Regions from separate parts of the Homo sapiens genome. Here region 1 is reported to be linked to region 2. Evidence: microRNA targets listed by miRTarBase, many of them from high-throughput screens and not tested one by one. Region 2 holds a microRNA gene; the other region holds the end of a gene's coding sequence.

Region 1 (3,405 bases), not on the chromosome of region 2:
TATTTAGTATGATAGAGCATGAGCCAGATTAAATGCTTAACCTAATTTGCTGTACATATTTGCCAGTGGTTAAAAAATTTAAGGGTTTTTGGATTCTTGTGCGATGATGGCTTAAAAACTAGTAAAATAATGCCCAAGTGGCAGAGAAGGAGGACTCTCAGTACTGGGTTAGGAATTTTATTACTTAGGGGAGTTTATGGTAAACCAGCAAGTTAGAAAAGGGGGGCATGCTTTAAGCATAAGCTCTTAATGTGAAAGAGACAGTGAAGGTTAATTTGTGAACTGTGAGTACGAGATACTTTAAACAAAGTGAGAAAGAGAAAGCAAAACCTGAAAGATAAATTCCAGGTTTTTGTTATTCCTGTGGCTAACCTTTTTTTTTTTTTTCCCAAGCCCTTGATGTTAAAGAGAGGTTAATGAGTTGCCCAGTTGACATTAAAGAATTTTCCCTGGAGTTCTTGGGTCAGGGTGAATCAATGTGGCACAAAGGGGAAAAAACCCAGCCAAGTGATTGTTTTAAGTGACTTACTGTTTCTACATAGTTAGAGTAATAAAAACAGAATTGACTAGTTGTATGCGTGACCTTAGGTACATAGTTCTCAGAGGGAGATGTTAATACTAAAAAAATTCCTTGAAAATCATACCTCAAAACTGCCAACTTTGGGGTAGTGGGTGCAGCTGGGGCAAGGAGACTAGAGAAGAGTAAAGCAGAATTTTACTGTTCCCATTTGCCAGGCCAAATAGCAAATTGATTTCTCATCATATTTGCATTTACTCAAATTGACTAATTGTATTTTTACAGTATTTTGGAAACTTGTTCATTAGCAGTTAGATACTGAATTTAGCTTCAGACATAGGTGGACCTAGAATATAATCAAAACTGCCTTAATTTACTAAGGCTTTGTAACAGAAGAACGTCTCTTGTGACTGTTAAGGTCTAAATTGCTGGAGTGAGCAGACAAGGACAAATTAATGTATGCAGTGGGTGTTAAATGTTGACCTAAAGAAAGAATAGGTATAAATAGGTGCATATTTAAGTTTTCTTCCTCAGATGTTTAAAATACACTGAACAAGTCTCAAGAACAGAGTTCATTTCCCAAAGTGTCAAATTATCCAAGTCAGATCTAGTAATTAACCCTAGCCCAAAAGGGTGCTATATAAAACAATTTAAACTCATTCAGTATTCTGAATTGTTGCTTTACTTACAGTATAGCAACTTCTATTCACAGAGTTGAGTCTAGCTTTCCTTCATCCTGTGATCTTTCCATGAGATGAGGTTTTGGAAATTACTTTTATTTTTATTTTTATTATTTTTTTTTATTTTGAGAGACAGTCTTGCCCTGTCCCCCAGGCTGGAGTGCAATGGCACGATCTTGGCTCATTGCAACCTCTGCCTCTCGGGTTCAAGCGATTCTCCTGCCTCGGCCTCCTGAGTAGCTGGGATTACAGGTGCCCACCACCATGCCCGGCTAACTTTTGTATTTTTAGTAGAGATGGGGTTTTGCCATGTTGGCCAGGCTAGTCTCGAACTCCTAACCTCAGGTGATCCACCTGCCTTGGCCTCCCAAAGTGCTGGGATTACAGGCGGTGCCACCGTGCCTGGCCGGAAATTACATTATTTTAAAAAATCAGATCTAGTAAAAGATCACAAATTAGATATTCTATAGGTGATTTTTTGTTGTTAGAAAAATGAAGGGCTTGATCCTCTTTAAGAGTCTGTGTTGTAACTGGCTTAGACAAGCACTACTTACCCTATTGTGTTTTCTTTCCATTTTAGAACCACCCTGACCTAAAGGAGAAGGCACCTTATTAGAAGTGACAGAATATATATTATCTATCACTGACTACCCAGTTTAAAGAAGGGTGTTAAATCTCTGCTGTAGAGTCTAACAAAACAAAGTTTTGCTTTTGCTTTTTTTTTTTTTTTTGGACACAGTCTTGCTGTTGTCGCCTAGGCTGGAGTGCAGTGGCGCAATTTTGGCCTACTGTAACCTGTTTCCTGGGTTCAAACTTCTGCCTCAGCCTCCCAAGTAGCTGGGATTACAGGTGCCACTGTCACCACGCCTGGCTAATTTTTTGTATTTTTAGTAGAGACATGGTTTCACCATGTTGGCCAGGCTGGTCTCGAACTCCTCACCTCAGGTGATCTCCCCGCCTCGGCCTCCCAAAGTGCTGAGATTACAGGTGTGAGCCACAGCGTCCAGCCCCAGAGTTTTACTTCTTAAAAATAATTTATTGTACCACAAGTAGCTATTGGTAGAGATGAAAGCTAAAGCAGAATGATGGAATACAGTTGATGAAACTTTAAGAAGCAATGTAGCATGTAATCCTCATAGCTTACTGTCAGGATGAAGCCTTTATGTTTACATCCAAGAACTGAGTTCACTGATGTCAACACCTAAGGGAATGTTCTTTGAACCACACAGCAGAGACAATTGTCATCACCTTGGTTACAGCTGTATCTCAGATTGTCTTTCTATAATACAGGTATATCTCCTGTAAGTTACCAGCATATGGAACTGGGATGAATTTTTAAACTGTCTATCATGCAGACAGATCAGTTTAGCTAACAACTCTCTTGCCTTTCTTTAATGGTATGTGTTGTAAGTTTTTTGCTTTCCAAAACTTTCTTCTCTTCTGCCTTTGAAAAATGGCAATTGATAAGAGTAGAACCAGGGTGGAGAAGAAGCAACAACCCAGGAATATCAGTGGTTTCTTCTGCACAAGGAATAAGCAGACAGTGCACTCTGTATTTTCTTGGGTCTGACTGCATCTAGAACTACTGTTCTCAAAAGGGAAGCCCCTGCTGCTGATCACTTTGTTGTAAAATTGTATTGAGGATTTAGCTTTAAAATCAGATGTGAAGAATCCAAATCTGGGTTTAGATTTCTCTTCAGCCAGTTTGAATGCATAATAGCCTTTGATTCTGACTTTATCAATCAGGTATGCTGAAAAAGATAAGAAATTAACATTAATCACAAATGGACTATGAAGTATCTTTGAGGAAGAATTTAGTTTTCATTGAAACAAGCTAAAATTATGCCCATAATAAAGGTAGTGATTTTTATTAGAGGGTTTTTTTTGACATTTATTCTTTTATGATCTATGTAAAGGAGAAGGTGAAAATATGTATAATTTAAGTCTGAAAAATTTGTAGTGAAACTTGATCCATAAATAATCCAAAAACTCTTGGAGGAAAAAGCAAATTTAAGGAGCAGAGCAATGAAGGTTGTCACTTTTGTTTAAAGGGTCACAAGCAGAAAAACGTTGCCTATTTGGCCTGATTGTGAACCTCAGATGTGCTCTTGGTGCAGCCCAGGAATCACAGTTGGTTTTACCCACTCACTCACTGTCGCTCGCTTAAGCTACCATGATGTGGTTATTTCACATTGCATGCTTGTATCG
Region 2 (3,352 bases):
TTTGCTTCCCCAGCCAGGCAGCCACCATTCCGAACACCATCCTCAAAGTTGTCACACCTTGACTTACTTATCATAAAAATCCAGGACTTTTTAGCTTTGTTGGACAGATTCCCTTTTCCTCTAAAGACATTTCTGGGCTACTCATGATATTTTGTGGTGTGACCGAAAATGTCTAAAAATGAAGATGAGAGTCAAGGCCTAGCCCCTTGTTAGTCGGGGCTCAGACTAGGAGCCGATGTATGGGAAAGTGCTGGGGTGAGAAGAGATCTTCCAGCATCGCAAGATCAAGTATCTTGGCAGCTTTAAAAGAATGTCAGTAGAAAGCACAGAACGCGTCCTGCCAGGCCTCTGCTGGCCGGTGTCCGTCTGTGTTGTCTGACCGCCTGTCGCCTTTCTTGCCTTCTGTACGTTCTCCCGCACAGTGGCCTACAGCCCGAAGGCTTGTGAAATGAGGCAGTGTCTGATAGATGTGACACCCGAAGCTAGGCGCAGGGGACAGGTCAAGGCTCAAGCCCTTGTGCTTTATTGCTGAATATGCCTAGTGTTCCCTTATTGGAACGCTAATCATATGGGAATTATTCGTGTCCTACTGTTCAAGGTCATCGCCAAGGTCTGATTTTTCAAATTCAAAAAATTGCAACCTCAGGCAAAAATGGGTAGGAGGGGGTTCAAGGTGCAGGAGAACAAGGCCTCTCCCCAGCTTTTCCAGTCTGTGCTTGGCAGCAGGAAACATTCCGGGCGTTTACTTCAGTTTGCTTCCATTTTATTTAGAGGAGCTGTTGGTTTTGAAGTCTGAATAATCATGGAAATAGCCTGCTAAACACTTAACGATATTTATTGCACAAGATTTAATGGGAAAGTGGAGCAAAACATTGTATGGAATCCTGGCAGCCGTGGGTGATTCTCGGCTGATTTTCCACACCTGCTGAGGCACATGGCCTCTCCAAAGAGCTGCCATTCCATGCGTGGGTGTGTTTGGATCTGGAGGGCAGAGAGGGCTGTTGGGAACAAGAACCTTGAGGGTTCCAGGCTAAGCAGAAAAAAGAACTTGGCCCACTGGATGTCACCCTGGGCCCTTCCCAGTCAGGGTAGAAGTTGTGGCAATAATAATAATAAGCTAGAGCCCATGCATGCTAGTGAAGGCAGTTGGAAAGGACAGGTGCGGCCCCACATGGTGAATTGAGGGGAAAGAGCCCTTCCACACATCCCAGCCCTGGTGCACCGGCAGGGGAGGCCAGCTGGGGACCTGAGCTTGGGATTGGAGTTGGAACTGAGGAAGACTTCTTCGCCATTGTAGAGAGAGTTGGGTCTCTGTGGATGTAGGACGCTGTGGCTCCTCCATGGTGCGTGAGCCTCATTCCCTTTGCTGGCTTGGGCTGTTGATGGAATGAGCCTCATAAGATATTGTTCTCCTTTGAACCTCATCTTCCTTTGGATGGGATGCCTAGAAAGATCTGCTCTGTGACCAAACACACTGACTCCTTCTGGTAGATCAGAACCCAGGGAAAGAGGTCGATTTCAAAACCAGGAAACTAGAGAGCATGGCGCACCATGAGGGTGAGGGTTACAGGAAGCTCTGCCTTTGAAACGGAGTGGGGGAGCCGTCTCCCTGGGGTGGTGTGGGGATGGCCCCATTGTGGCCCCCGGCGAGTGTGTCGTTTCCTCCCAAGGGTGAGATGCTGCCACCCAGCCCTGCAGAGCCCCTGACTCGCATCCTTCCCTTGGCAGATGAGAAGAACATCCTGCACATCATGGTGAAGGTGGTGAAGGGCCACCGCCCCGAGCTGCCGCCCGTGTGCAGAGCCCGGCCGCGCGCCTGCAGCCACCTGATACGCCTCATGCAGCGGTGCTGGCAGGGGGATCCGCGAGTTAGGCCCACCTTCCAAGGTGAGCACCCCGGGGTCTCCCCGCCACATTCTGTGGGTGTCACAGGAGACAGAGGTGACAGACAGGACAGGGTGAGGGACCAGGCCTGGGTGAGAAACAAGGCGTGTAACAGGTGGGCCGAAATGAGCCCTGCACAGATAGGTTGGACCCAGCACCTGCCTGCGGCCTCTGGTACTCACGGCTCGGCCACGGCAGCTGGAACTGAGTTGCCTCCAACCATCCGCCCCCTGCTCCCCACCAGGGTTGGGCTTGCCACCCAGAGGAGTCTGTATGGGAGCCTGAAGTTCAGGTGCAGCCATGCTCTTCCCGGGGACTTACCTGGCCGGTGGCCGGCGGCGTCGCCCTTCTCTTGAGGAGTTGACTTCCTGGGACAGATGTGTCTCTGGCATAGGAAAGTCACCCTGATGAGATGGAAACTGCTGCATTTAAAGCTTACGGCAGGAAACGGGCTGAATGGGGAGCTCATCCGCCAGGTGCTGGCAGCTCTGCTCCCTGTGACTGGCAGGTGGCGCTCCCCCGGGGAAGGCTTCCGCCTTGAGTCTGGTGAGGCCTTCAAATGATTACCGATGGGGGGGCCTGGGTTTGGCCAGCAAATTGTCCATGTAGGGCCCCTGGGCTTGCCTGGTGAGCTCAGGCTGGGCCGAGGCGTGTGAGAAATCCCCCAGCTCGTGGGGGCCCTGCGTTTATATGGAACGCGTGTGTACGCAGAAGTCATCATCCGAGTGACATGTCCCCTTTCTTCCCCACAAGAAATTACTTCTGAAACCGAGGACCTGTGTGAAAAGCCTGATGACGAAGTGAAAGAAACTGCTCATGATCTGGACGTGAAAAGCCCCCCGGAGCCCAGGAGCGAGGTAACGAGTCCTTCCCACAGGGGTCTTTTGTCTCCTCGGCTTCCAGGCAGGAGTTTCCAAACCACTCCTCTTTGCAGAGTCCCCCGCCGCCCGGACCACTCTCCCTCTCTTCTGAGCCCATCCCGCACCCAACTCCATTAGAAGTGTAGGTCCCATGGGGGCTCAGGTCCACCTGCCCGACTGCATCCCCGCCCCACCTCCTGTCTGATTCTGCGTGAGTGGCGGAAGGGCTTCCCTGACACTAAATAGCCACTCATTGGATGTGTGTGGACCACGGGGATCAGAAGGCCCAGCCCCGGCCGGGGAGGGAGAGCTGGTGTCTGAGTGTCTTTGCACCCCTGGCTCGGGGATCCAGTTCCTTTATAGCTGCCCATAAATGGTCTGCACTCTGATGAGTGCCACCCAGGTGATTTCAGATGTGATAAGAAGCTCCAAGTAGCAGGGCTGGCTAAATGCCTTTTCGGGTGATGAGGCTGGAGCAGACCTGTGAGGCCCAGCTGATAAGTGAGCTTTATAACGTGTTATCTGGTGTTGGGCGATTAATCCCAGGCTGTTGGTGTGAGCTCAGGAGATCAGGAAATATGTATATCAGGAATATGCGCCCACTGCCT

What was found. The annotated mature microRNA hsa-miR-6814-5p reads UCCCAAGGGUGAGAUGCUGCCA and lies in region 2 at 1,664-1,685, shown strand. An mRNA with a match to its seed (bases 2 to 7 or 8) in the 3' UTR can be bound and repressed. Matches are read on the target gene's strand: a 7mer-m8 pairs with bases 2 to 8, a 7mer-A1 pairs with bases 2 to 7 and ends in A, and an 8mer does both.
Region 1: miRTarBase lists KLB as a target of hsa-miR-6814-5p. Seed matches in the 3' UTR shown: 7mer-A1 at 2,025-2,031 and 7mer-A1 at 387-393.

The regions. Positions count from the first base shown.
Region 1 is chr4:39,447,844-39,451,248 of GRCh38, reverse strand. It overlaps KLB (klotho beta), which reads right to left. Exons shown (of 5, transcript NM_175737.4): 5 at 1-2,948. The coding sequence ends at 2,563. Among named protein-coding and RNA genes, the nearest start is that of RPL9, 9.4 kb to the left of the region's middle.
Region 2 is chr21:41,745,148-41,748,499 of GRCh38, reverse strand. It overlaps MIR6814 (microRNA 6814), which reads left to right and starts at 1,659; the gene lies at 1,659-1,728. RIPK4 (receptor interacting serine/threonine kinase 4) reads left to right here. Exons shown (of 8, transcript NM_020639.3): 5 at 1,729-1,887; 6 at 2,638-2,741.